4 separate regions of the Homo sapiens genome follow, and regions 1, 2 and 3 are each reported to be linked to region 4. Evidence: microRNA targets listed by miRTarBase, many of them from high-throughput screens and not tested one by one. Region 4 holds a microRNA gene; each other region holds the end of a gene's coding sequence. Distances are from middle to middle.

What was found. The annotated mature microRNA hsa-miR-4492 reads GGGGCUGGGCGCGCGCC and lies in region 4 at 5,412-5,428, opposite strand. An mRNA with a match to its seed (bases 2 to 7 or 8) in the 3' UTR can be bound and repressed. Matches are read on the target gene's strand: a 7mer-m8 pairs with bases 2 to 8, a 7mer-A1 pairs with bases 2 to 7 and ends in A, and an 8mer does both.
Region 1: miRTarBase lists NECTIN1 as a target of hsa-miR-4492. Seed matches in the 3' UTR shown: 7mer-m8 at 478-484, 7mer-m8 at 560-566, 8mer at 1,186-1,193, 7mer-m8 at 1,876-1,882, 8mer at 2,269-2,276, 7mer-m8 at 2,316-2,322 and 1 more.
Region 2: the mRNA of SLC10A3 is a reported target of hsa-miR-4492. Seed matches in the 3' UTR shown: 7mer-m8 at 2,051-2,057.
Region 3: the mRNA of PODXL is a reported target of hsa-miR-4492. Seed matches in the 3' UTR shown: 7mer-m8 at 4,630-4,636.

What each region holds. Positions count from the first base shown.
Region 1 is chr11:119,660,187-119,665,186 of GRCh38, reverse strand. It overlaps NECTIN1 (nectin cell adhesion molecule 1), which reads left to right. Exons shown (of 6, transcript NM_002855.5): 6 at 1-4,195. The coding sequence ends at 440. Among named protein-coding and RNA genes, the nearest start is that of NECTIN1-AS1, 47 kb to the left of the region's middle. RefSeq lists enhancers at 1-52, 53-591.
Region 2 is chrX:154,481,652-154,489,529 of GRCh38, reverse strand. SLC10A3 (solute carrier family 10 member 3) reads left to right here. Exons shown (of 2, transcript NM_019848.5): 2 at 448-2,219. The coding sequence starts at 590. The coding sequence ends at 2,023. It overlaps UBL4A (ubiquitin like 4A), which reads left to right and starts at 2,915. Exons shown (of 4, transcript NM_014235.5): 1 at 2,915-2,993; 2 at 3,197-3,302; 3 at 3,551-3,759; 4 at 3,881-5,813. The coding sequence starts at 2,946. The coding sequence ends at 3,991. RefSeq lists enhancers at 2,312-2,371, 2,709-3,467, 3,468-4,226, 7,480-7,539 and silencers at 2,632-2,891, 3,382-3,531.
Region 3 is chr7:131,498,483-131,506,360 of GRCh38, forward strand. PODXL (podocalyxin like) reads right to left here. Exons shown (of 9, transcript NM_001018111.3): 7 at 7,778-7,839; 8 at 7,386-7,553; 9 at 1,789-6,026. The coding sequence ends at 5,829. Among named protein-coding and RNA genes, the nearest start is that of PODXL, 54 kb to the right of the region's middle. RefSeq lists an enhancer at 7,177-7,878.
Region 4 is chr11:118,908,315-118,916,192 of GRCh38, reverse strand. MIR4492 (microRNA 4492) reads right to left here and starts at 5,485; the gene lies at 5,406-5,485. It overlaps BCL9L (BCL9 like), which reads left to right. Exons shown (of 10, transcript NM_001378213.1): 3 at 6,178-6,279; 4 at 7,538-7,878. The coding sequence starts at 6,254. RefSeq lists enhancers at 1,520-2,059, 2,354-2,463, 3,142-3,683, 3,684-4,225, 3,301-4,500 and 3 more.

The DNA.
Region 1 (5,000 bases), 750 kb from region 4:
GCGGGATCGTGGTCGCCCTGCGTCGGCGCCGGCACACCTTCAAGGGTGACTACAGCACCAAGAAGCACGTGTATGGCAACGGCTACAGCAAGGCAGGCATCCCCCAGCACCACCCACCAATGGCACAGAACCTGCAGTACCCCGACGACTCAGACGACGAGAAGAAGGCCGGCCCACTGGGTGGAAGCAGCTATGAGGAGGAGGAGGAGGAGGAGGAGGGCGGTGGAGGGGGCGAGCGCAAGGTGGGCGGCCCCCACCCCAAATATGACGAGGACGCCAAGCGGCCCTACTTCACCGTGGATGAGGCCGAGGCCCGTCAGGACGGCTACGGGGACCGGACTCTGGGCTACCAGTACGACCCTGAGCAGCTGGACTTGGCTGAGAACATGGTTTCTCAGAACGACGGGTCTTTCATTTCCAAGAAGGAGTGGTACGTGTAGCCCCCCTTCCAGAGCCTCTGTCTGTGACCGCTCCTCCCCAGCCCCTCCCCGCACGCCCCCTGCCCACCCCCCACCTCCCACTCCAGGAGCTGAACAGAGACTTGCCCAGCTGCCCAAAGCCAGCCCCGAACTCCTGGGGGGCCAGGGGAGCCCAGGGCAGCCACGACTTGGCTTTGTGTTTTATTTCCTCCCTCTCCTCCGCCCTTCCCCATGGTGTTGTGTTCGACTGTGGCTTTAGTGTTACTGTATCTTCCCTTTACGGGCCCCACCTGCCTGCCCTCTGTGTAGGGAGCCCTGTTCTCGTCTTGTGTACCTGGGCATCCCTCCAGGGTTTGGGGAGCCAGCCTCCCCCGCCCCCCTACACTGGAATTTGTTTGTGTTTCTTCACTGGGGGTGGAGGGCTCAAGGGGCTCTAAGAGGGAAAAGCTCCCCACACCCCCAGATGCTGCTCCTCCTCCCGGCTAGAGGGAACCCAACACCCACCAGTGAAATCTGATGCAGCTGGGAGTTTGGACCTTGGGTCTAGACAGCTGGTGCGCCCAAGAGGTAGGGGGAGGGGTGCGGCTTCTCCCCAGTTCCCAGGGAGTCTTGTTTGTTAAGCGGGGCCTTGGGCAGTGTTTTCCTGCTGAGGGTGGTTTTACATTTTTTTTCCTCATTGGCCCACAGAGAGTGGAGTTGGCCTAGCTCTGACGCGTCCCCTCTTTATCCCCAATGTGCCCCCTCCATTAGGGGCTCCAGGTGGGCTCCAGCCCACACTTGCTCTCTGCCTCTGCTGACACGTGCACACACACACACATGCACACACTGCTCCTCTCTGCCTGCTTTCCCCTGGAGTCCCATGCCCTGCCCCATCCAGACACTGCCCAAGGCCCACCCGTCTATTTCCACCTCATTCCCCCTTTAAGCTGAGAATGGGGTCTGCCTATAGAAGCTTCCAGAGACAGCTGAGACTGGGTCCCCGGTGCCTCCACCCTAGGATCTCAGGCCTGCCCCAAACTGCTTCTTACAGCGTGGAGGTTTCTCTGATTTCTCCCTTATCTAGCAACACTTGGTTCTTTTGGCTAGTCAGGGCTGGGATCCCAGGGGGATCCACCTGCAGGAGTCAGAGGTAAAGAAGCATCCACACGGAGGGTAGTGGGGAAGGAAGCCCACATGGCAGAAGCTCTGCAAACACAGTCCGAGGGACTGAGGAGTCCATACAATGCCTCACACACAAAGGCCATTGTCAAAGCCTCGGGCCTGGCAGAAAGTGAGGGGGGTGGGGCCGCTAGGCCACCTCCTGCTCAGCCACCCCTGGTCCTCATTCTGGGATGAGGGGAGGGCCTAGGAGAAGCCCTCCCTTTCAGTGCAGATTCCCTTCTTGAATGGGACATTGAGTTCCTATCAGCCACCCCAGACTGGGTCTTCCCATGTATATAATGGAGGAAGACCCCTCCCAGCCCTCTCAGTCCCCCAGCTCAAAGTGCCTCAGTTCCTCCATCTGCTCCCAGATCCCCTGGCACTCTAGACAGGCATGCCCATGGGAAGGACCCTGGGATGGAGAGGCAGGCTTCGCGGCCCTTCATGCCTGCCCACTGGGATTCCAGTTAACTCACCCCAGGGTGTCAGGGGCTCTGCAGGATGGCAAGTGTTGGGGAGGAGGGAGGCAGACCACTCTGTGCCCCACGGGCACTGACCCACCCTGCCATAGGCTTCCTAAGGGAGCCCCCCAACCCCTCCCCTCCCCTCCCTGGTGCTGCTATTGAACCCCCTGCCAGCTCCATTTCTGCCCTGGCAACCCTGGGCCCAGCAGGTGGGTCGTCGTTGTCTGGCCCTCACTGCCCTGGCCCCAGCCCAGGCTGCCCAGTAGCCACGTAGCAGAAGTCTGAAGCCATGCCAGCCCTGGTGCGGCTCTCCCCTCTACACATTTGGGGTACTGGATAGGGTGAAGTTAGGGGAGAAAATTGTGGAGTCTTTCCAGCCACAGGGCAGAGGGAGGTGGAGGAGCTGGGCTGCTTTTCCCAGCAGTATTAGTGTCCCCCAGGACAGGGGACCTTTTCCACATTACATCACTGCCCCATCCCACCTTACAACACTCTGGCCCCTCTGCTTGGTCCCCTTTTCCCCCAGGCAGGAGGCAATCCCAGGGGCCTGCCTGATAGAGGCATTTCCTGTCCCTGTCTCCTCCTGCATCTCCTTTATCCTGCACTGCCACCCTCTATTCCCCATTCTGTGTTGGACTTTGAAGGCCCCAAGCCCAGCCAAAGCACTGAGTTCCCCCTTAAGACACCTCCACACCCTCCCCACAAGCAAAGCACAAATTTTGGGGTCCATGTAGCATGGGCCACGTAGGAGGCTCCTGACTTGCCAGGGGCCCAGCCTCAGCATACCCACCGAGCAGCTGCCAGCCTGGGCTGAGGGTGGGCATGAGGCAGGAGTCAGCACTTGGACCTAGGGATGTGAGGTTTTCTGTGCCCCAAGTTTGTGGGAAGGTGGGCACTACTGCTGGGCCCACAGACACAGCCAGCTGGCAAAAGGGAGGTCTAGCCCAGCAGAGAGATGAGGACATTTTGCTTCTCCTTCATGCCCACAGCATGAGCTGAGCTTCTGCTTTGCTGGAAATGAAATAAACTTGGTATGAATTGTGCCAAGGCCTCCCCAGTTGTCATCCTGCCTCTTGTTGCCCTCCCTGTCCTTGCCCCCCACCCCACACCCATGCCCCTGTTTCCTTACAGATTTTGATATTGTTCTAATGTGTAATAGAACCAGCCGAGTCCCCTTTTATCAGAAGGGTCTGAAAAGCAGCAGCACAGAGTAGGTGAACACAGGCCTGCAAGTGCGACCACCTCAGACCCAGTACGTGTGCCCACAGTGGACACACTCACACCTCCAACACACCCACGCGCAGGCATGTGTACACGCATGTACACACGCATGCATGCACAGCCAGATGGCCACTCAGCACAGATGTGGCAGAGGGAATGGTCTGATCCTGCTGAAAGCCATTAAGGAGAAACGAATTTCCCAGTGCCCGGGCTGCAAGAGAGCCTTATAGGGGCCCTGTTTCCTGGGCATGCGCTTCCTCTGCCAGCCAACCCCCACTTGCCCAAGTCACTGGTGCAATAACTTTTCTGCCTTCCTCAGAGCAGAGAAATTGGGAATTGTGTTAGGTGGGTGTGGGCAGCTCTGCTGAGCCAAGCAGACACGGATGTCCCCTCTTCTGGGAGGAGGGTAGTGCTCCCAGGCCTCAGGAGTCCAGACAGAGACCCCCAAAGCCTGACTGCCAACAGAAACCCTCTCCTAGTGAGGGGCAGGTGGGTGTGCCCCAGGTCCCCACACCCACAGGGAGGCTTCACACACTGCCCAGTACCGGGGATGCCAGGAGGCAGGCCCCTCTGCTGCTGCCACTGCTGCCAACACTGCCCAGCTTGTGAGGCCAGGAGGAGCCCCTGTCCCACTCGGTGCTGCTGCTCTTCTGACCCCTGCTGTGAGGAATGGGATTCTTGGTCGAAAAAATTGGTTTTCCTTTTTTGTATAAATGAAAAGAATCCAGGAGAAGCTGCCACCCTCCCCTCCCAGCGTGATGCGCTACCTTGCTTCGGCGTCTTGTCGCCCTTTCCGCCTTTGGTCCAGGGACAGCCCAGCAGATCCTCCTGGTTCTGACCTGGGGGGTGTTTGCATCACCCCCTTTTACTTGTATTAAAAAAAAATGATGGGTTGAAAATGTACTGAGGATTAAAAATGTACTTTTTTATAAATAAAGTGTTTAAAACAAACTGGTTTGCATCCCATCACTGCCCTGCTCCATGGCAGTGGGGGCGGGGAAGGCGTGGAGCTGGAGGGGATGGCACAGAGGGATAGTGAGGGGAAGGGACCCCCCACCCCATGTCCAGGTTCCAGGGTTCCAGAGGAGCAGGAGCCCTGAGGGAGACTGCTCACAGGCTGCCCCGGAACCATCTTCCATGCAAGTGAGAAGACCATGGACTTTGACGACAGCATCGCAGAGGGAGGGGTGGGCGTCCACAGACACAGGAGGGAGGCCTTTAAGAAAGTAAGGCCTGAGAGGGCTGGGGGTGCACACAGCAGAGAGGGAAAGCCCTGTGCCGGCTGGTGCCCTCCTAGGGGTACGGGTGCCTCCTGCCCCAGATTCCAGTTCCCCTATCACCCACTCCTGCTGTCCTGTTCCTGCCACGTCCCCTCCTGTGGCTGTTTGGAGAAGAAAACCAGCAGTGTCACGCCTGCCGTGTTAGGTCCCTGGGGACGGAGAAGAGCTGAGAGCTTTATCCTTTCATCTTCTATTTCGAAGCTACTGCCCCGCCCCATCCCCTGCAAGCTCTCCCTGTGACCCACCCCTCCTGTACCCCCCCATTTTTCTCCAGGGGGCTGGTTGTTTGGAGAGAAGGTCTTCTTGTTCCTCGGTTACCTCCCCGCTCTCCCCACCAGCACCATCTGCTTCCCATCTCCTGGGCTGGAATGCAGGACAAATCGATCCTGGGGGTGGGAGTGGCAGGGGCTTCAGAGACTGCCCCATCCCAGCCATCCCTCCGTCACCCCCCGCACCCAGTAGCATCTCCTTTCACT
Region 2 (7,878 bases), not on the chromosome of region 4:
GAGCACAGCCTCTCAGATGTAACGCAGTGGCTCTGGGAGGTCAAAGTCTCAGCCCAGTGGGAGCTCTGACAAAAGGAGGAGAAACCCCCCCAGTAGACATGTGGCTCTGTCTGATCCACTCCTGCCGCCCCTTCTGGCAACTTCCCTGGGGAGGGAGGACCTGCTTCCCAGCAGGACCTTCATCGAGTCACTGTAGGGGCAGGTAGAGTGGGCCAGGGAGCCACAGCTGAATGGCACTCAAGGGCCATCACTAGGCATTGCCTCTCCATTCCTGAGTGTGGGGCAAGGGTCCCTGCTGAGTTTTACTCTTAGCAGTGGGCTTCCAGATCCCCATGCTCCTGGGTTCTTGACTGCCTCCCTCTTCAGAGGTAAGACACATGGCTGGACCAAGGCCTCCAGGGTAAGTGACCCTCACCAGCTGCCTCTCTGTGTCCCTTACCTCCTCAGGGACAGCCCTGCCATCAAGGAAGACAGCACAGGACTGGGACCCACCCATGAACCCTTCTCAGGACAACCCAACAGCACCAGTGGGGATGTTCTCCTAAGCCGCAGAGGGCCTGGGCACGCCATCCGTCCTCCAGGAAGAGCCATGGTGTTAATGCAGGACAAGGGCAGCTCTCAGCAGTGGCCTGGTCTGGGGGGCGAGGGTGGTGGCACAGGTCCCTTAAGCATGCTCAGAGCTGCCCTGCTGCTCATCAGCCTGCCATGGGGGGCCCAAGGGACAGCCAGCACCAGCCTCAGCACTGCTGGGGGTCACACCGTGCCACCGACTGGGGGCCGCTACTTGAGCATTGGAGATGGCTCTGTGATGGAGTTTGAGTTTCCTGAGGACAGTGAGGGCATCATCGTGATCTCCAGCCAGTACCCAGGCCAGGCCAACAGGACGGCGCCTGGCCCCATGCTCAGGGTCACCTCCCTGGACACAGAGGTGCTGACCATCAAGAACGTGAGTGCTATAACCTGGGGAGGCGGGGGTGGCTTTGTGGTGAGCATCCACTCAGGCCTGGCTGGGCTGGCCCCACTCCACATCCAGCTCGTGGACGCCCATGAGGCCCCGCCCACACTGATTGAGGAGCGGAGAGACTTCTGCATCAAGGTCTCACCTGCTGAAGACACGCCTGCCACCCTCAGCGCCGACCTGGCCCACTTCTCGGAAAACCCAATCCTCTACCTGCTCCTGCCTCTTATCTTTGTCAACAAGTGTTCGTTTGGGTGCAAAGTGGAACTCGAGGTTCTGAAGGGGCTCATGCAGAGCCCCCAGCCCATGCTGCTGGGCCTCCTGGGCCAGTTTCTGGTCATGCCCTTGTACGCTTTCCTCATGGCCAAGGTCTTCATGCTGCCCAAGGCCCTGGCTCTGGGCCTCATCATCACCTGCTCGTCGCCTGGCGGCGGGGGGAGCTACCTCTTCAGCCTCCTTCTTGGAGGGGACGTCACCCTGGCCATCTCCATGACTTTCCTCTCTACGGTGGCTGCCACTGGCTTCTTGCCTCTGTCTTCGGCCATCTACAGCCGCCTGCTCAGCATCCATGAGACGCTCCACGTGCCCATCTCCAAGATCCTGGGGACCCTGCTGTTCATTGCCATCCCCATAGCCGTGGGCGTGCTGATCAAGTCCAAGCTCCCCAAGTTCTCCCAGCTGCTGCTGCAGGTCGTCAAGCCCTTCAGCTTTGTGCTCCTCCTGGGCGGCCTCTTCCTGGCCTATCGCATGGGGGTCTTCATCCTGGCAGGCATCCGGCTACCCATCGTACTGGTGGGTATCACGGTGCCCCTGGTTGGCCTGTTGGTGGGCTACTGCCTAGCCACGTGTCTGAAGCTGCCAGTGGCCCAGCGGCGGACGGTCAGCATTGAGGTAGGGGTGCAGAACAGCCTGCTGGCCTTGGCCATGCTGCAGCTATCCCTCCGCCGCCTTCAAGCTGACTATGCCTCCCAGGCCCCCTTCATTGTGGCGCTGAGCGGCACCTCCGAGATGCTGGCCTTGGTCATTGGCCACTTCATCTACAGCAGCCTGTTCCCAGTTCCCTGAGGCCTCTGGGTCAAGCTTTCATCAGCCCCAGCCCCCACACTCCACCAAAGTTCTCATGCACTATGCACTCAGAAAAATCCAGGCTTATTTTTTTTACTGATTTTTTATTCTCCAGCTTTCAGTGCCAAAGAGGCCATGCTGAGTTAGGTAGGTGGGCGCTGCCCAGAAAATATATTTCAATAAAAGAGAGAAGCAAGCTTGGGTCCCTTCTACTCTTTGCCCTTTGGGGCCTGGGCGTGGGGGTAGAAAGAGTGTGCTGGGTAAGTGTGGACCAGGGTGGAGGGCCAGCTTGGGTGACACGGTGACCCCTGCATAGGCTTTCCCTATCAGCCCTCCCCGGGGGTGTCCCCACTCTGGGAGAGGTGGGAGGATGAGGGCAGAGGCGTAGCCCCCCTGCCCCCTCTCAAGCTCAGTGGAGCGTTTCGCAGCCAGACCAGAAAGGAGGAGGTAGGAAGCCACCAGACAGGGAGCGGGGGCGGGCCGTCTGTGGGTATGCAGGGCCAGGCGCCGCCAGCAGTCCTGGCGCGTGAGGTGGGCCAGGCAGTCCGCGGGGGCGAGCGTACCTTCTGGCCCTCCCTTCTCCATGTCCCAGCTCCCAGATGACGCCAACCTGGCCCGACTGGTTCCTGCTCCCAACTCCCCCGCGTCGTTGCTTTGGGAGGGGTCCGCCGGCCAGGGCGGTCGATGCGCGCATGCTAGGCGGGACCCCGGGGGGACTCCTCCCGGGGCGCAATTGGGCCGGGGGGCGGGGCCGGGGCGCGGACGGGGCAGGAGGGCGGGGCCGGGAAGCGCGGGCGGCGGGCGCGCCCCTCTCGCTGCTTCCGGCGGCGGCGGGCGGTTCCAGCGCGCGCCCGGGGCGGCGGCGCGCGGCGGGGGGTGGTTGGGGTGCGCGCCGGCCCGAGTGGACGCCGTCGCGACCGCCATGCAGCTGACGGTGAAGGCGCTGCAGGGCCGCGAGTGCAGCCTGCAGGTAGGGTCCCCGGGCCGGGCCGCCGGGTCCGGCGCGCTCTCTCGCCCGCTCCTGGCAGGGGGACCGGCAGGGCCGAGGGCGGGCACGGGGCGGCCGGGCCGAGGGCCGGGAGCCGGGAGAGCTGCCCTCGGGGGCGGACGCGTGGGCTTCGCCGTCTGGGGGCCGCGGGCTCAACCCTTGCCTCCCACCCTCCGCGCGGCCAGGTGCCAGAGGACGAGCTGGTGTCCACGCTGAAGCAGCTGGTCTCCGAGAAGCTGAACGTCCCAGTGCGCCAGCAGCGGCTGCTGTTCAAGGGCAAGGCCCTGGCAGGTACCCAGGGAGAGGAGACGCCCGGGGAGCCCCGCAGGAAGCGGGACCGGGGTGCGCGGGCCGAGGCCAGCAGCCGTGTGTCGGGTCGGGGTGCGGGCGCCAAGCGCCACATGACCCCAAGGGAGGCGGCCGCATGCCTCACAGCCGGATGCCGCAGCGCTCCGCTCCCGCCGCCCGAGGCGGCCTCGCGCCCCGGGCCACCCCCACGGCGGTGGAGGAGGAGGAACCCATCGATCTGTCTTTGGCAGATGGGAAACGACTCTCGGATTATAGCATCGGGCCCAACTCCAAGCTCAACCTAGTGGTCAAACCCCTGGAGAAGGTGCTACTAGAAGAAGGCGAGGCCCAGAGGCTGGCCGACTCCCCACCCCCGCAGGTCTGGCAGCTGATCTCCAAAGTCTTGGCCCGCCACTTCAGTGCGGCAGATGCCAGCAGGGTCCTGGAACAGCTACAGAGGGTGAGAAGGGTAACCCTGGGCATCCTCTTCAGGCCCAGTTGCTCCCAGCCCCTACCTCTGTTGCAGTGTATGCCCCCCCACCACTGGCAGCCCCTGAATCTTCCTGCCCTTCTCTCCCCAGGATTACGAGAGGTCCCTGAGTCGCCTGACGCTGGACGACATCGAACGGTTGGCCAGCCGCTTCCTGCACCCTGAAGTGACTGAGACAATGGAGAAGGGCTTCTCCAAATAGAATTCTCGGAGCATGGGGAGGTGCCCAACGCCAGGCTACCGCTGCATGTCGCACTAAGTGTGTTCTCCTGTTGCAGTTGGGCTCATCATCATCATAGCTGGCATGTACCTGGCTCTGGCCAGGTGCTAGGCACTCCTCACAGCTTGACCTGGGTTTGCTTCCACACCCTCAGAAGAGGAGAGCCGGCACAGCAGAGGCACCGGCGATGAAGTGGCACAGCCCCAGTCGGAATCCAGCGGCTTCTGAAAGTGCCTTGGTGTGAGAAGGAGGAAGGGGCCGCTTGGAGAGCTGGGCTCTCGCATGTCATGTTTAGCCCACTGAGAATATACCCTCAGGTGACTCCCTCCCGATCCTGAAAGGGAAAGCAGCTGTCACCTGACTTCTGGCGGGTCCAACATAGCCCTCAGCTTACCTCTGCAGGAGGCCAAGTGACAGCCAGCCCTGGAACCCCCCGACCCCCGCAGCTGCTGCAGCCAGTGTGCCAGTGTGCGTTCGACAAATGGAAAAGCAGATTGGGGCCAGGGAGTCAGCAAGGCACCCCAGCTCTGTGATGTGACTTTGGGCGAGTCTCAGTGCCACTTGGTCCCCAGCCATGGACTCTATACAGTGAGGGCCACTCACCGACCTGAGTCAGTGTCCTCTGTCTCACAGGGCCCCTCTCCCTTCTGTTCAGTAAACAAACTGAAGCCAAAAATGAAGCCGTGGCCAAGTGTGACCCAGAGATGGGGTGTCCTGGCCCTTAGTGACACAGCTCCTCTCTGGGGCACCCTATCTGCTTGTCTCGTCCAGGAAGCGTTAGGGCTGATGGGTGACTCAGCAAGGCAGTGTCAGAGCTGGGACTGGGCGTAGGCCTTTGTCCTCATCCCCAGCACTGGCCTCCCTGTGGAAGATGAACATATCCCAGCCACCTGTGTACAGGGGCTCACTTTGTGTGCTCCTTGTTGCCTGAGAAGAAACCTTGGGGTGCCAGGGTGGGGGCAGAAGCATGGACTGGGTTCCGGTTCATCCTCCTCCACCCTGCCGTGTGTGTGGGCACAAGAGGACATCTAACCACCTGCTCCTTGGAGGAGGCCCCCAGGGGTGGTAGAGGCTGGAAGGAAGCCACATCAGGAGGACGCCACTCCGGCCCTTCACCCTTGCCAAGTGAGCTGCTCACAGTGTGGTCAGGGCTGCGCGTGCTGGAGGCCCTCCTGCCTGGGCCTTGTGGGGCAAATATTGGGTCCCCAGGCTGGAAAGATGGACAGAGGCCCAATGGGTGAAGGCTTTGAAGAGCACACAGAAGCCCCTGGCCCCCCACGAGAGCTGGAGAGCCATGTATATGGCTTCAAAGCCACCTACGGCAGGGACACACTCGTGAGCATGTGTGGCCTGCAGTTCAGGTGATACATTTACCAGTGTTCTTGTTTGTGTGGTGCCAGGAAATTGATTTTGGAAAAAGTGAAATAACATTAAAGGTGAATGTGAGGCTTCTACTTTTATCCAAAAGGAGCTATATTAGCTAGGCTGTTTCTGATATCCAATCATTGGTTTAACAATAAAGGCAATTTGTTTAATCAGTTAACGGAAATTTCTTGGCTTATGAAAGTGAAAAGTCCAGTGGTATTGGCATTGGCAGCAGGTGAGCAATTTCACCCAGTGTCTTCTGCCTCCCTCTGCGTTGGTATCTGCTACATCCCAGGCCACCACCTCCGAGGATGAAAAGATGGCTGCCTGCAGCTTCCACGGAATCCCTCCCTCACTGCCAGAGCAGCATCTTCTCTGTGTACCACCTCTGCTGTCTCAGATGCCCCCAGCAAATAAACACTCTTCTCGTTGGTCAGAACTGGATTGTGCGTCCAATCATTTTGGCTGGGGTAGGGGGTAATTCTCCGTCAGGGCTGGCTCCCTGGAGCTAGGCATGGGGCCACTTCCCTGGACACACATGGGCTATGCAAGGGACAGAAGGCTCTGGGGGAGGGCTGGATGAATGGATATCCTCAATGGTGGCCGCAAATGGCAGCTGTCCACTACAGGGGCCATGCATGTGTCAGATCAGGGCCACCTCGCAGGTAGTGGAGGAGAGGGCTGGAGGCGTCAAGATCACACAGGGAAAGCGTTTTCTGAGGCTTGGGTTAGGGAAAGCACCAGAGAGAGGAAACACTGCAGGGATGGGAGACAGGAAGTGGGGGGATCGTTAGAGGACACTGGGGATTCTGCATGAAGATGGAGCAGCCACAGGCTGCAGCCCCCCCAATGCTGAGATCCTTTAACAGGGGTCAGAATGTTTACTGCAGGTGCTGCGCCCCTCTGAGCCAATTGTCCGCCCTGAGAGGTAGCACCGAGTCATCCACTGCCCCCTGCCCGGTGAAGGGCCCTGAGACCCACCACCTGCCCCTCAGGGAGGGGCCTCGGGACAGTATCTGAGTCCTGCGGCCATGGTGTGACTACAATGACATCAGGAGATAGCAGCATGAGTGAAGGGCCCAGCTGGGATGAGGTGCTTTTGGTGTCGTTTCCCAAGGGCCCACGGGAGGAAGAGCGGCCTCAGAGGACAGCAGCATTTGCCTTGGGGTGGGGAGGTTCCCTGGCAATGGATCAGCTGGTGTCCCATGTGAGCCTCACCAGCTCCAATAGATCTGCCCGGGCCTGGTACTCCCAGGAGTAGATGCAGCAGAGGTGGCCAGCCTTGAGCCTCCCAGCCCTGAAAAGCCTTCAGGAGAGATGAGAGACACACAGCAACTGCCCTGTCCTCCTCCAGGGCCCAGCTGGAGCGGCCTGCATACACCTTCAGGGCCCCACTGAATGGCCGGCAGTCCTCATTCCTCACCCTCTTCTGCCTTTGCTCTCCCGCTGTTTCCACCACTTGCTCCTACTCAGGCTCTCTTGCTGGTTCTTCACACACACCCCACCCCTCAATGTTGGTGCCCCAGGGCTCTGTCCCTGAGCCCCTTCTCTTCCCTCTGTATCACTCCTCGGGGAGCTCATCCAGCTTGCTTTCTATTTCTGTGCCTCACTGCCATGTCTATGTCTCATCCCGGCCCTCTCTCCTGAGCTCCAGCCCATGTCTTCCAGACAGCGCCTGACTTTGCTGCAGACGACACCCTGCTCATCACTGAGTGCCCCCTTGTGTCCCAGGTGCTGGCAACCCTGAGACTGGAAGACACAGTCCCTTCCCTCTTGGCACTCACGTCCAGCACTGGCCGGCTCCTCAGCACACACGTGTTCTCCACGGCCCGGCTGGAGGACTGGCAATGCCACTCAGCCAGGCTTCTGAGGGAGCAGGAGGCCATCTTTGCCTCTCCCAACTAGCCATTCTCCATAGGCAATCAGGCAAGAATATTTTTGGAAGCATCCAGGGCAGCTGCTACTGTATCCTTTCCTCCTCTGACCACACTCACCCCCAGCCCCTCATCAGGCAGCTGGCAGGGTCAGGCTGCCCCACTGTTGAGGACGCTCAGTTTGATCACGTGATCCAGGTGGCTGCTGCCAGATCTCTCCCCTGTAAAGACGCAGTTTCCCTTCCTGATTCACAAGTAATTTGGGGTAATATTTGGGGACTTTGTGAATATCCTGTCCCCAACAACCTTTCAGCTAATGCTTTTGCCATCCAGCGACAATTCCTTGCCTGAATCGATTTTTTTTTTTTTTTGTGAGACGGAGCCTCACTCTGTCACCCAGGCTGGAGTGCAATGGCGTGGTCTCGGCTCACTGCAATCTCTGCCTCCTGGGTTCAAGAGATTCTCCCGCCTCAGCCTCCTGAGTAGCTGAGACTACAGATGCATGCCACCACAGCCGGCTAATTTTTTTTGTACTTTTAGTAGAGATGGGATTTCACTGTGTTGGCCAGGCTGGTCTCAAACTCCTGACCTCGCAATCCACTCGCCTCGGCCTCCCAAAGTGCTGGAATT
Region 3 (7,878 bases), not on the chromosome of region 4:
TTTAGGACAGGGTCTCACTGTGTCATGCAGGCTGGAGTGTAGTGGTGTGATCATAGCTTACTGCAGCCGCCAACTCCTGGGCTCAAGTGATCCTGCCTTAGCATCCTGAGTAGCTAGGACTACAGGCATGTGCCAGCAAAACTGGCTAATTTAAAAAAAAAAAATGTAAAGATGGGATCTGGCTGTGTTGCCCAGGCTGGCCTCGAATTCCTGAGCTCAAGCTATCCTCCCACTTTGACCTCCTAAAGTGCTGGGATTAAAGGCATAAGCCACCATTCCCCACCAAGGTCTTTGAAAGCAATAGATATCTCAGTGTTTATCACTAGTGTTAATTATGTAGCCAGTTCTATTCTTTATTTACTTTTTTCCCTTGTGGTACAGAAGAAATCTGTGATTTGGGAGGGAGCTTATAGGGAAGGTTCTGAGTGACAAATGAGCATAACACATTTAAATTGACAACTGAGCGTGTGTCTTGGTTGGCAGGCAGGGATCAGGGTGAATGACCTACTCAGAAAGAGAATGGGATCTTAGGTCTAACTTGTGGCCCACAATAAGCTGTGGGTCACTCTTAGAACAGTGCACCTCGACCATGGCCAGGGTCCTGTGTGAGTTCCTTGTACTTGGACTCCTTTCTGTATCCTTGGCACCCTCTCGAAGCTAACCTCAAAATTACCCGGGCCCAACTCTAGACCTCTCTTCAGGGTTTAACTGCTTTTCACAACAACTTTCATGGAAGGAAAATCATGTTGTAACAGTAGTTGCATTCTAGAAATGTATTTTGCTGTTGTTGGAACTCTGGCATTAACGTGATACTGAGAAAAGAGTGTAGGACTAAAGAGCAAAAAGAGAATCAAGGCCCATGCTGCCATTTAAATGGTTGTGTGATCAATCTCAAAGAGAATACTTAACTCCTGCATCTAATTTCCCTAGTGGGGACAATTCCTATAAGATAGGTTTGTAAACCTATAGGTTTCCTATAAAATGGTTTGTAAATGGTAAGATGCTAGGCAAGTAGACAAGATTGTTGTCTAGCAACTAAGATTATGGACCAGTTCTACCTGACAGTTTCCCTTCTGCAAGTTTGGAATGATGAAGTTTACCCCTTCCGATGAAGAAGCATGCAGCTGTGGATAATACCACACTAGGAGATGAAGAAAGAATCATCTCCAGTGATTCCTTCCTTAAACCGCTATCTATCTTCACTGCAGACCTGGAGGAGGGATAGGCAGAAGCCTCTTGTGGCAGTAAACAGATCCTTTTATGGCAGAAACAGGGCCAGAACAGAGCTTTGTTTTTACATATATATATATATATATATATATATATATATATATACATACACACACACACACACACACACACACACACATATATATGTATATATATAGTCTCTTTGCCAGTGTTTTCATACCTGATCAATGTTCAGCAGCCCTCTTGGGGATTTCTGATAGTGGTGATTCACAATGTATCTGAGGCAGAAGTAGAGGGAAGGAAGACAGCGAAACATACAACGTCATCTTAGGGGAAAGTGAGGTTCTTTAGAGTCACTAGGATAGCTTGAGTAACATAAAGACTCATAACCACCTTTAGGATCCCCCTTTTTTTTTCTTCCGGTTTCTCTCCTTCTCTTGCCTAATTTCTTTGCCTGCAGAGTTGGACAAGTGTAACTCAGCACGGAGGCTCCTGTGCTACGGGTGTGAGCCGACATTCTCAGGCACTTTGGCGATGAGCCTCATACACAAGTGAAGGCTTTAAGAAGTCCGAGGAAACTACTAGAGCTTGAACCAGTTTACACAAAAACACTTTAATTGACAGTATACAATTTTCCAAAATATATTTTTGTAAGAAAATGCAATAATTATTAACTATAGTTTTTACAAACAAGTTTCTCAGTAAATTCCAGTGTACTTCAGACCCCTGTCCACTAAGACATATATGATCCCCCAGTTCCTGGGCAAACTGTTGAACATTCACTGCAGACAAAAAGACCAACACCAAAGAGTCATCTGTGTCCTCCATGCTGTGTTTGCAGCAGACCTGAGGGATCAGCTAGTGACCGTGACAAAAGCTATGCTACAGTTTTACTCTTGCCCTCTCTGCCTCCCCCATCATGTTTCCTTGGTCCCTCAGTCCTGTTGGAGTAAGTTCCATATATAAAAGCTCATCCAAAACTTTGTTTCTTGGCAGAAAGAAAGAATTGTTCACTTACATCTTAAACCTAAATGATTCAGAGAAAGTGTAGAAGACCAGTTCTTATGTTTGTGTTCATGCCCTCCCTAGCCTTGCTAGGGTAACAACTGGGAAAGGAATTCTGTCCTTTGTGTCATTCTGGCACCTTCGAGTAGCAATTCTTAATTTACCGATTATTCCTTCTGAGGCGCACAGTCTGTGGATCCAGGTTTTAATCTTGTTTCTGTCCTGAACCATGTGATTTTGAGGAAGTCACTTCATCTTTGTGAGCTTCAGATTATCTTTTTCTCTAGAAAAAGATTGGACTAGATCTTGAAATACCTTTCTCCATGACTACAGGGTTGCCTGCCAACCAGAGCATATTGACTCCAACCTTTACTGAAATGGAGCTGTGACTTTGCTGGGGAGGGGGCAGGGTTGCATTTTAAAATTAAAAAAACAAAACAAAACACCTGATCTACAAGACAAATACTTTATCATAAGTTTGTCTTGTTATATTTCATTTTTTGTTTAAAAAAAAAAATCAAGCAAAAACTTGTCATTTCCAGTAAGACATTTACATTCCTGTCCAGAGAAAAAACTTGGCCATCACTCAGCTAACATAATGCTTTTTCAAAGTATGTTCACTTAAAGCAGTGCAGGGTAGGTTAACATGGTCACTGTATTTACATTATCAAAAAAATATGTGTATATGTATCAGTTTGAACTTGTTCTTCAAAGTTTCTCCAGTATATTGTCAAAAAAGATAAAGCTCAAGAAGTGGTTTAAATAAACTTTCTGCTAGCTTTCCTTATCAAGCGGGAAAAAAATCTGGTGCCTAGACTAGATTAAACCCGTATTCTGTCTTACAACGCAAAGAATATTCTGTACCTCCTTCATAAGCTTTGCTGCCTGTCTCCCCACTCTCATGACAGTAGGCTTCCTAGTCATCATACTTGTGGTTTCTGGCCTCCTGTGCAGCTTGGGGAAACCACAGTTTACCACTGAAAGAGCTGATGATAAACTGTCTTTGCTACAACCTGTTTAAGTCATGCTGAGCTTCTAGTGTTCCTCTTACCTCTTCCCAGACCCAATGCTCTCTGAATTATCAGAGAGCATTTAGAACCCAGTAAAGGTGGCAGAAGATGATGACCTTTATAGATGCATGGCTGTTTGGCCTGTTGACATAGGTGTCCTGGTGGCAAGAGCAAGGCAAGGTGTCAGATTCTGAAGCTGTCCTAAGCCTAGACTAACACAGTTTGGACGAATATAAAGCAGTAACCTCTGAATCAGCCCAGAGCCTCTCCGGGTTCTCCTTGGACAGAGCGATGGAGAGTCAGGAGAGTCAGGACCGACCTGGCCAGGCACTCCTGCTCTCTAGTCCTTGCCAGTCATCATCTGTCTCCAAGAGGCCATAGGGTTGCAGCCTTTGATTGATTTGCAGAGGCCTATTTGCTGTCTCCGTCAAAAGCCCTGGCTGGTGAAGTGTGACCCAGGATCAGCAAAGGAGGAATAATCCAGTCTGGCCTCTCCCACGGGACCACAACAGAAAACCTACTGGGTGGAGAGAACCCAGCGCTGGGCAAGAAGGAAGCAAACACCTCACTCAAGCCTAACAAGATTTCCTGTTTTCCCCCAAACAGGCACTGTTCTCCATCCTGCCCACCTCCAAACACTAGAGCATCGGGGCAGATGTTTTTGGAACTTGTTAGCCTCGCATCCCTCTAACTCCTGGGAAACTCGCTGGGGCCCTATGTGAACCCCTGGCCTTCCTTTTCCCCTAGGATATCAGATGGCTACAGACTGTGAGGAAGGAATTAGGCAGATGGTGCAGGACAGATCTTCCCCAGCCCCTCCCCCTACCCTTTTAAAAAGTAAGCCATCCCGAGTGGATAGCCTATTTCATCAGAGCTACTACAGCCGGAGCCTGACTCTTAAGACCCTGGAGGTGTGGCGTTTCACCCGAAAAATGGCAATTTCATTCCCCTAAGCAGTTCTGCCCATTTTCCTACTTGATCCCAGGGAATTTACGCCCAGAACGATGGAGACCATGGCGAAAGTTCAACATTCCACACAGGATTCCCCCTTCTCAATCAGATGAAACCTCACCATGCCCACTGCTTAGGAGCCTTCTACATGGCAGCTAACTGCCGAGCCCATAAAAGTCCTATATTGGGGAATAGACATAGCTTTGTGTTCCCCTGAGATGCCACCAGAAACTGCAAGAGAACCGCAGCAGCCCCACTAGGCTCACAGAGAAGAGGAACAGCAAGGCCTAGCTCCAGGCCAGGACAGTGGGACGTTCCCACAACAGTCTGTCCCCCAGGCTGCCCTTCATGCACCCAGCATGCACTGCGCTTTCCAGGCCCTCTTTTCCTGTGGCACAGGAGAATCAGAGTGAGTGAGATGAGCTAACTGGACGTCTGCCAACTGTCTGAGCTTTTGGCCTTTGGCAGTGGAGGGCTGGGTTAGAAAACAACTATAACAAAACTCTCAGCAACTTGAAATGTCCCTGAGTTTCCTATGATATACAGGGGAAAGCCTGTCCTTCCTGGCTGCTTTAATGGATTGTCTCTGAAGACACATCGCTGATGGGGGGCCCCGGGAAGGCCTCTCCTGCAGCCACTGCTCTTTCATACTGGGTCTCAGGGAATCACTCCCATCAGCTGAGCAGTGAACAACAAAAGGAACACGCTGCTCTCACTAGCTACAGCAGATTTTAGTCCCTGGTGGAAATGGAAGCCCAAAGAAGATCGTGGGTGGCCTCTGCAAGGAGTGCCAGGGGCAATGGGCCAGTGTTCCTGCTGACCCCTCATCAGCTGCCCTGAGATACCAGCCTGGACTCGAGTGTCCCCTTCTCTCCTCACCTGCACGCAGGTCCCCTAAGCAGACCTGGTTCACGCACGGAGACCTGTGTGGGTTAAGCCCCCATCTCACGAAGCAAATGTGAGAAAATCCGAATCCAGAACAAGGGGTTCAAGGTTATGAATAACCTGTGCTAATCCCAGAGGCCCCAGGACAGAGTAAGTGGGAACAAACACTGAGTGTAGGGAGGGGTAAGAACATAGAGGGTGGGAAGATGGGTACACGAGGCTGGGGTAGGAGAAGGAAAACTTGGGAGCTGGACTTTCAGGTCGTCAGATCCCACCGAGCCAGGATGTAGCCCTGCCCTCCTTTCCAGCCCAGCCACCTGCTGGAGTTTCACCCCTGCCCGGGACTGCTCTGGACGGAAGGCACATGTGAACACAGCAGTGTGGCATGGTGCAAATGGAATCTTTGTTCTCATCCTGGCTCTGTCACCAAGTGGCTCTGACCTTGGGCAAGTCACTTACCCTCTTCAGGTCTCGGCAATCTCACTGCAGAATGAAGGGATTCCACTAGTTCATCTATAAAGTCCCTTACGTGGCTTTTTCTTGATCTCCCTCATCATCCAGCAGCACTGAGCTCAGGCACTAGTGGGTTATTTTACAAGAGGAATCTGGACAGAATGTGATTTGTTCAGGTTGAAAAGGGAAAAATTAAGGCCCTGGGGGGATTGGGAGGGGACACCCCTCGGAGTTCACTCTCCCTCCCCAGTCTTTCCCTTCCCCATCCAAACGGCACTTGGGGTGGTTGGTCTGGAGCTCTGTGGTGCTGCTGGAGGCCACCGGCAGACCGGACTAGAGGTGTGTGTCTTCCTCCTCATCCAGGTCGTCCTTGGTCAGGTTGTCCAGAGGGACGATCCAGCTGTCCCCCAGCTCCCCGTTGAGGCTGACCACCTTCTTCTCCTGCATCTCAGAAGAGGTCTCCATCACTTCCAGTGTTGGGTTGTCATGGTAACCATTCTCCACTGTCTGCAGCTCCTCTGTTAGCCGCTGCTAGAGTGGGGAAGGTGACCGGTGAGAAGGGGGTTTCAGAGGGCTCTGAGCTTAATACAGCGCATGTACGTACCCCTCCCACTCAGGAGCCCCACTGTAGCTAAAGCAGGCCCTCATTGCTCGCCTGTGGGGCTGGCTGCTCCTGGTGGTCATTCTGGCTCTCAGCCTGCCCGGAACTAGTTGGGAACAAAGACTTGCCCCTCACCCTCACCCTGGTGGCAGAACCTGTGAAGTTAGTGGAGATGGACTTTGTTCTCCAGAGTCCTCTAAGCTCTCTCCTCCCCTTCATCCCTTCCCCCAAAACCTCCTCTCCAGGCACCTACCTCACCTATCATAATGAATGGGAAAAACACTATTAAAAAATGACCTCTCTCGGGCTGGGTGACTGAGCCCTCAAGCCTGGGCAGGATGGGTACGGTGTCTCTAGAATCATCCCTGCGGCAGACAGCAGCCATCTGGCAGAGGCGCTTTCTGTCCCTCTCAAACACAACCTTGAGTGTATGCTAGAATCACCTGGGGAGCTTTTAACAACTACACTGATGGACTCAGAGATTGTTTGAATTGGTGTGGGAGGCAGTCAGGCAAGGGAATTTTTCTAAAGTTCCCCACGGTGTGCAGGCAGGAGTGAGAACCACAGGGTCTGGGTGGCACCATCATGGCGAGAATTCTAGTAAGGTAGGCAGAAGAATTTTTGGTTAGACAGAACACCTAGGCCTGCTTCTATCAATGAATCCTCAGACCAGCTCTGCAAGGAGGTTATCCCTGCTGTGCAGATGAGGAACCTGATGCCCAAAGAGCTCATCTGACTGACTTCCTCAAGGTCAGGGCCAGGACTAACCAAGTCTCCCTGACTCCAGTCCAGGCGTGGTGACTCACACCTGTAATCCCAGCACTTTGGGAGGCTGAGGCAGGCGGATTGCTTGAGGTCAGGAGTTCGAGACTAGCCTGGCCAACATGGCGAAACCCCATCTCTAGTAAAAATACAAAAATTAGGCGGGCGTGGTGGTGGGCACCTGTAATCCCAGCTACTGGGGAGGCTGAGGCACAAGAATCACTTGAGGTTGCAGTGGGTGACACCAGCCTGGGTGACAGAGCAAGACCCTGTCTGAAAAAAATAATAATAATAAAATAAAAAATAAATAAGTCTTCCCGACTCCAAAGCCCACGCTCTGTCCTCTGCCACGCTGCCTCTGTAATGCTCTGTGGACTGAGGCGGCTGCCTATCAGGGGTGGCCTCTGCCTGTTAGAAAGGGTCCAGGGCCTGCTCCCTTTCCTCTTCTGCAACTCGGGAATCACGAGGGGAGGGTTCCTCTGGTGACCTGGGCTGCTTCCCCTGTGTGGCTGCAAACAGCTGCTTACCTGGTCCTTCCTCTGGGAGAGGCGCTGGTGGCAGCAGCCATAGAGGGCCGCCACGAGGAGCAGGAATGATGCCATGCAGACGATGGTGATGATGAGGGGCATGCTGAAGCGGTCCTCGGCCTCCTCCGGTGGCCCCTGGTCCCCTAGCTTCATGTCACTGACCCCTGCCTGCATGGGAAGTGGCAGAGAACAGGCTGGGGGCATCCTCTCTCCCTCAGCCCCCGGCTTCACTGTAGAGCCCCTCCGCTTGCAGTCTGCTAGGGTCCGTGCCGCCGCCCTCTTCTACATGCAGGCACATGACGGGGTTCCTCCCCACAGAGAGAGGGGAGTAACCAGACCTCCCACAAGGGGCTTCGGAGCCACTCTGTCCCCACACTTGGGGGGCCGCTTACCTCCTTTAGTTCATCCCATTTGTCCTTCAGCCGCTCGTACACATCCTTGGCAGGGAGCTTAGCTGTGGGAGAGGGAGACGATGCCCAATGGCCCAGCCCAG
Region 4 (7,878 bases):
TGGATCTAGAGAGGACACCTCCCATCCATGGGCCTGGGGGATGAGGGCTCAGGGTCTGCCTGGGCCATGCCTTGCTACTGGACTGGCCATGCCTCCTGTGCCCAGCCCCTGGGGCCTGTTCCTTGGGCAGGCTGGGGCTATTTTTGGGATCGGGCTGGGGCTCTGGGGCCGGTTTCAGATGTTCCAATGTGAACACGAGAAAATGGGAACAGATGGCTGGAGGGTTCCGATCAGTGGGTCCTGCTGGGCGCAGGTTATTTTTAGGGCCTTGTTAACCCTTTGGGGGCTTCTGGGGCCACCCTGAGAGATACAGCCCTGTCTAGTTGAGAAGAGAACAGGTTTTCTCCCTGGGCCCCCTACTTTCCAGAACTGCTTGTCAGTTGTTCTTTCTCTCCCAGACCCTTCCTTTGAGATCCATGGCAAGAGAGTAGGCTTAAGCTTTCTCCCAGCCCAAGTACTACAGGGTGACTGCCAAGGGGCAGGCAGGGAGAAGGGGACCTGGCAGAGGGGAGGCTGGCTCTCTTGAAGGGAAATCCCCCTTCACTTGCCTCCTGGACTTTTGAGACATGGTCCTGAGGCTAAGAGAGTGGACAGCCACCCAGCCCCTCTCTGGGTTCATGCTCTGGATTTGAGTGTGTCGGTGAGCCCAGGATGCCCAGGAGTGTGCCAGCGGAGGGAGCTGACCTCTGAGAGGAGGGCAGGGGAGGAGCCAAGTCTTTTTACTTGGTACCACTAATATGATGCCCACAGGCCCTGTTCTCTTGGACACTCACAGGGAAAATATCTGGACAGTGCCTGCCTTTACCAAATGCCCACATATTTGGGTGCCATGGCAGGAGGTAGAGATAAGGAAATTGAGGCCAGAAGTGGTTTGTCAAGGGCTGGTGTGTCTTAGGCATTCTGTTAGTTTCACTACTGTTACCTCACTCTATAAAATTATTCTCCTTTTGCAGATGAGGAAGCTGAGGCTCAGAGGGATAAAGGGAAGGACAAGGCCCCATAGATGAGAAGGGGCAGGGTGTGATTGACACTGTCTGACTACAAACTTGGTTTTTTTTTTTGAGACAGTCTCGCTCTGTTGCCCAGGCTGGAGTGCAGTGGTGCGTCTCAGCTCACTGCAACCTCCGCCTCCTGGGTTCAAGCAATTCTCTGCCTCAGCCTCCTGAGTAGCTAGGATTACAGGCGCCCACCACCATGTCTGGATAATTTTTGTGTTTGTAGTAGAGACAGGGTTTCACCATCATGGCCAGGCTGGTCTTGAACTCCTGACCTCGTGATCCACCTGCCTTGACCTCCTAAAGTGCTGGGATTACAGGCGTGTGCCACCGCGCCCGGCCCTCAAACTCAGTTCTTATTCCACTGCATCATACTGCCTGCCAGGGCCCCAACCTCAGAGGGCGAGGCCACCAGGCACCAGACCTCCTCTGGGAGCAGCTTTACTGAATGGGTGTGGGAGAGGAGGCCTGGGGACAGGGGACCCTGCCTGTCACTGCTCTCACAATCCCCTAAGCCTTTCTTGCCTGAGGGTGCCAGGACTGACACCAGAAACCCCGTGTGGCCTTCTGTCTCCCTGCAGAGGTCACAGGCATACATCCTGTCTCATCACCCCCACCCCTCCCGGCCTGGCCCACGTGCCCCTGCATCCTGGAGGGTCATGACAGTCTGGATGTCAATGTGGGCAGAGCTCGTGGGGCCCCCAGGTGCTGCTGCTGCCAAGAGTGTGAGCCATCAGGGGAGGTGAGGGGCCAGGAGGATGCCTCTGCCTCTGGCTGTACCTGGGGAGAGAGCAGAGCAGGCAGGCAGGCGGGCGGGCGCTGGGTGAGGTCCCACCGTGGTGCGCTTGGCTGTGCCAGCAGTCTGCTGCACTCCATCCTCCCACAATGGCCCCATTGTTCCCAGCAGCCAGGCAGTTTGGAGGAGGTTCCTCGGCCACCCCTACCCCCCTAAATAGGGGACAGATTAACCCCTTGGAGGACTGAGGCCAGGTGAGGGCCCACAGGGAGCTGCCTTGCCCATCTCTGCCTGTTCTGGGAACCCAGGCTTGGGAAGTTACCTTCTACCCATGTGAACCCAGCACCACACCACCTCCTGAGATGGGAGTCTCCATAGGGTAGAGAGTGGCACCTGGATCATCTCCTACCCCCACCCTGGTGCAGGTGCCAGGGGACAGGAAGTACCAGTGGGGCGGCGGGCAGAGACCAGATATATTTGGGCCGGTGGGGCTAATTCCAGCCACCACTGCCTGCCCTACTGGCTCCTGAGCTCCTTTCCTTCCTGTGAAACCAGAGCTAGGTTGGGCCTAGCTCAGGATTTCGGTGGATTTAAAGAGGCAGCACCATCCCTGCCAGCCTGGCTCCCTCTACCCTCCCCAGGTAGGGTCTGGGGCAGAGAGAGGACTGGAGAGCTTCTTGCTCCTCCCTTGCCCTGGGCTAACCCCTGGCCCTTGCCTCTGTTGGGGTACCAAGCTTTTGGCACTCCTCTCTCCCAGAGCCTTGGGCGGGTGGGGTGGGCGGGGGTGGGCTGTGGTTTCCTGTGTTGGTTGTTTGTGCCTGGCCCAGAGTGCCCGCCGCCTGCCTGGGCTTCCTGCCCTGTCTTGTTTCCTTGTGCCCCCCACCCCCTCTCTACCCCTCCCCCTGTGGGAGGGAGCAGCTGGGGATTGGGTAGCTGTCTTTGGGGGCACCCCACTGCCAGGCCATGATTGCTTCCCAAGGCCCGGCCACACTGACAATGACTGTAGGAGCCAAGAGAAGTGAGGTGACCTCAGGCCTGTCCAAGCAATGCCACTTGTCTGTGCAGGCTCCAGAAGGGACAGTGGGCCAGAATGGGCAAAACCGCCGATCACCCCCCAGTACCCTGTTCAACAATCCCAGACTAGAAAGGTCTGGGACCAGGAGTTTCCCTGGTCCTGTGGAGCTGGGGTTGTCTGACATTACCCTAGGGCTGCAGGTGGGGTGGGGCTGGAAACTCCCAGGGAAAACCTCCCAAGCAAAAATGGCTGATTTGCATGGTCTCCTTTGGCACAGAGTCGGGGGAAGTGTGGAGAGCTACTAGGAACCAGGGCCATGGGAAGGCCCCCTAAGCCTGGAAGTCCCCACATCGAGGGTCCCAGAGCAGCACCTTGGTCCTTGAGCAGATTTCCTGCTGGGCTACGAATCCTTGACCTCCCTGCCCGCTGAGTCACCACCTCAGGAAGAGGAAGTGACCTGAGTGGTGGAGAGAGCTTCTGAGGACTGAGGGGTCCTGACACCCAGGAGAAAGGGGATTTGGGACCCTGTCGTCTCGGGCGCTGTATCTCCCTGAGCCAGAGGCCAAGGATCTCGTTCGCCCTGTTGTCCCCAGCAGGGTCCTGGGCTTTCACGTCATCACAGGGGGCCCTGGCAGCTCAGGAGCATGAACCCTCCAAAACATTTCCTCACTGCCTCTTTGGGGTGGTTTTGAGCTAGGCAGTGACACTGCTGGGCCAGCTGGTGAGCCAAGCAGAGGCTCCCAACGTGGGGGCAGCTAGGAGCAGGCAGGTTGCCACTGGATGTGTGAACGCCTGCCCTACCTGTGGTAGTTGTGTGTGGAGCAGAGCCGGTGTGTCATACCTGGAGGCTCTGGGCATCTGAGCCTTCCTCAGCTCCCTCCCCCAGCTAGGATCAAGTCCACTTTAACCCTTAGCAACCCTTAGGCTGCTAGCTCCTACCCTCGCGTCACTCGGGGTGGGGGAGCGGATGGATATCTCAGGCCCTTTGTCAAGCCGCCTCTTCCGCTCCTCCGATTCATTCTCCTGGTATGCGCCTGGCCTTCCACTCAGGTGACTCGCACCTGCTCCCTGTTTGTGAGCTTGCTACCCCTCCCCACCTAACCCCCTAAGAGGGAGGCACGGTGACGTGTTCCCAGAGCCCCATCCCTTTGCTTTCTCGTACCTCAAGGGCCCCTGGCCTGGTACTAGCAAGCCCCCTTCACTGGGTGCTTTAAAATTGCATTGGGCTGGGATCAGCCCTCTTGGCTTCCCATCACCAGGCCTTCCAGGTGTCTTCGGAGACTGTGAGTGTGTGGAGGAGGAGGGGTCTTCGGGAGCTGGGGCAGACTCTTGAGGGGCAAAGGGGGGAGGTGTGAGATGGGAAAGTCCTGACTCATCCACGCTTGACTCAGCTCGCCCTGCGGCGGGGTGGGAGAGAGGGGGTGGAGTCCCGGAGGGGAGGGTGACTGGAAGAGTCTTCTGGGGAGGAGCCTAGGCCTGAACGGCCACTGGAGAGGACTGATTTTCTAATAGCCCCTTCCCAAATTCTTACAGGTTCTCAATTTTTGAGGCTGTGAACATAGGTAGTGAGTGGCCCTTGCCCTGCCCCTCCCCCCTTATGGGGGACCTGGGCACTGTGGCTGGAATGTGGGAAGCCCAACTATCTGATGCAGGCTCAGAGGAGCAGTCATGGCTGGCGTGGGGAGGTGGGGTCACTGCAGTGTCTGGAATGAGGGTCCGTCCCCACACTGCCACATACTGGATATGTGACTCAAGGTCACGCCACTTCCTTTTCCCAGACCTCAGTTTCCTCGTTGAAATGGGGTCGATCCTTTTGAGAATCAGCGAGCTGGTGAAGGGAGAGCCTGAGATGCATGCCAGCCAGGAGCCTGCTCAGAGCCCTGGTATCTCAGTGACTCCAGCCTCTGCCTCTGCTCTTCCCTGGTTGTGATGGAGAAGCTGGGGGTGGCGGGCTGCTTCCCAGGCAGGTCCTGGACTTTGGAACCTTCCCCCAGGAGCCTTCCTCCCCAGAGACACGGCTGGAGTGGCGAAGGCCAATGTGCCCTAGGGTTAAGTTGGGGTTAGACTCCCGCAGGGTGGCAGGTGGGGCCCCCTCACCCCCAGGTCCCCGCCCAGCCTCCAGCAGCCCCGCAGGGAGCATCAGGAGTGTGCACCGGTGTCTGGCCGGGCCTGTCACCGGGACGAAGCTCCTGGGCCCAAGACTCCTCCCCTTTGACCGGGATCGGCTGCTGGAGGGCTGCTGGAGGGCGGGTAGGGGAGGCGAGGGGGGAGCCAGGGCTGGGGGCGGTTGGGTGAGGCCTCTGTGTTTGTGTAAGTCTGTTGCTGTATCTATGGCCCTGTGCGTGTTTCTTTGTGACTACCAGGCTCAACTTTCTTCGGCTCTCTTGTGGCCGGCCTCAGTCTTTTCATCTGTTCAATGGGTCCGGCGCTCCCACTCAGCCCTCGGGCAGCCCCGGTGTCTGCGCGTGCCCCAGGCTGTCTCCGCGCCTCCCGCTCCGGCGGCGCTTCCCTGGCCTCGGCGCGCCTCTAGCTTCCTGGGCTCCGTGCGTGTCTTGTCTCCCTGTCCACGTGTGAGCTGTGAGTGTGTGTGAGTCAGAGTTCGGGTGTCTGTGGGTCTCTGAGCCTCTGCTGGCAGCACCCGGGGCTCGCCAAGCTCTTGCCGGCTGGCGCGCGCCCAGCCCCTGGCGGGACTTGTCCGTGTGTCTGTCCGCGCGCGGGGCCTGGAGAAGCACGCTGCAGTCCTGTCCGCCTCCCGCTCGCTGCCTCGCTGGCTGTCGCTCGCTCGCTCTGCCTCTCCGCCCGGGCTCTGCCGAAGGGGGCGGGGTGGGGGTGCAGGGCGGGGGGAGGGGAGGCTCCTGCATTCTTGCGGTCGGGGAGGAATCCGAGCCAGCGTTACTGGTCTCCAGAAGAGCCCAGCTGCAGCCCCGGGGCCCCGCCAGGCCTCTCGCTGCCCGCCCGGGCCTGCTGGGATGGGCACGGGCTAGGCCTCGAGCTGGGGACGGGGCGGGGCGTGGCCCCAACCCCGGGCCCCCTCCACGGCTGGAGCGCTCTGGGGGTGGGGCACGAGGGGTACCCCACCCTGGGTGAGGGGCGCGTCTGGGAGCAGGAATCCCTCAGGGGGCCAGGGGAGACCTCACAGCCGCCCCACACGGCACCTTTGCTACCTAGCCTTTTAGTGAATTCTGTCTCTGCCGCCCGTCGGGGCGGAGGCTTGCTGGAGACTGCAAGCCCCCTGAGGGCAAGGTGCGGGAGGGATGGGGACAGGGCTGGCCTCCAGGATCGAGACCCCATCTCGTAATCCTCTTTTTCCAGTGCCACCCCACCCTATCCAGCTCCCTAGTCCCAGGGCTGTTGGGTCCTCCCTTCTCCCCTCCCCCTCTGACACCCCCTCCCCAAGTCACGAGTTTTCTCTTTGGGGCTTGTTGCTGCAGTCCGTGCTCCAGTACCGAGTACCTGGCTGGGCCCTGGGCACGCACAGGGGCCGTAGCCCCACTGTGTGTGGGAGCCATGAGGATCCTGGCTAACAAGACAAGGTGTGTGGGTGTCGTGGCGGGTGGGATGTGTGTGTGTGGAGTGCGGGAAGGGAAGGGCCCAGTGGTGATGGGGCCCAAGCTGTGCTGGCCAGGAGAGGAGCCGCCCTGGGCACCTGGCTCCCAGGCCACCAGTGGGCTAAAGGGGGGTTAGCATGGGAAGGCCTGGCCCGAGGCAGGAGGCGCAGCCAGCCTTAGTGCCTGGGCCTGGGTGGGGGGCAGAGGGGACTGGCAGCCAGCTATGCTTGCGGCTTCTGGTCCCTTCTAGTTCTTCCCTCCTTAAAATGGTTTGAGCAGACCCCCTCCCACCCTACTGTGGGGTCCGAAGGCCGCCTCTGGCCTCAGTCTAGCTGGAGGTGGGAGCTGGAGTAGGGGGCGGTGCCTGCCTCCCTCCCCCCTCCCCGGAGAAGCCGGCAGACAGGGCCAGGCGGCAGCAGCAGGACAGCAGAGCTGAAATAAATCTGAGCTGGTGTGGAATGAGGGGGGATAAATATCCTCTCCCGTGATGTGATCTTTCCAGCGGCTATTAATAGGTCTCCGGGGAGGGGGAGGCGGCGGGGGGAGCGGGCTGGAGCTTAAAGGGCCCGCAGCCTAGGCTGCAGGAATCCTTGGCTTCAAGCTACACTCCCCATCTGCTTGACACACCGCTCCCCTCCCCCTTTCCTCCTGCTTCTGCCTGCCGGCCTGGCCTGCCAAGCCCCCCTCCTCAGGCCTTCCCCTCCAGCTGTCTGGACCAGTGGGTAGCACTCCCTGGTGTGCGTTTTCCCACTGTCCCTGGGGAATGAGACCCGGGCATGTGCAGTGACCCCAGGTCCTGTGGCCCTTCTCTGCTGGTGTTGGGACATATGGGAGTTGAGGTTTGAGACCTTGGAAGGAGTCTGAAGACAGCAGATCTTAGAAGAGAGGATGCTTAAGTCTGATACAGAGGACAGGGTTGCCACAGAAGCTTGCAGGCTGATGGGTGTTTTGGGGCTGAGGTGGGTGAATTCTGCCAACTCTAGGCCCTGGTTTCCATTCAAATTGTGGAGGCTAGGGGGTGGAGGGTTTCCCCATCTCCACTCCCCAAGGTGGATGAGGGCTTCAGCCCTTGTCTGAGGAAGCCATGGAGGGAGGTAGAGAATAGCTGGTGGTGGTCTTGAGATACCACCCCTTCCCCCCACCCTCCCCCATTGTTAGGGGAGGCAGGATGGGGTAATTAAGTTGCAGGCATGCCTAGCCCCTAGCAAGGTTAACTTTTCACATTTCTCCCACCTCCTCCCAGGTTACCCCACCCCAGGAGGAGAGAAGCTCCAGGGAGCCCGCCGCTGTCCCCCCGCGGTCATTGCCCCCCTGCCCCAGCCAAGCCAATGCACCCAGAAAATAAATTGACCAATCATGGCAAGACAGGGAATGGCGGGGCCCAATCTCAGCACCAGAATGTGAACCAAGGACCCACCTGCAACGTGGGCTCGAAGGGCGTGGGGGCGGGGAACCATGGGGCCAAGGCCAACCAGATCTCGCCTAGCAACTCAAGTCTGAAGAACCCCCAGGCAGGGGTGCCCCCTTTCAGCTCGCTCAAGGGCAAGGTGAAGAGGGACCGGAGTGTGTCTGTGGACTCTGGAG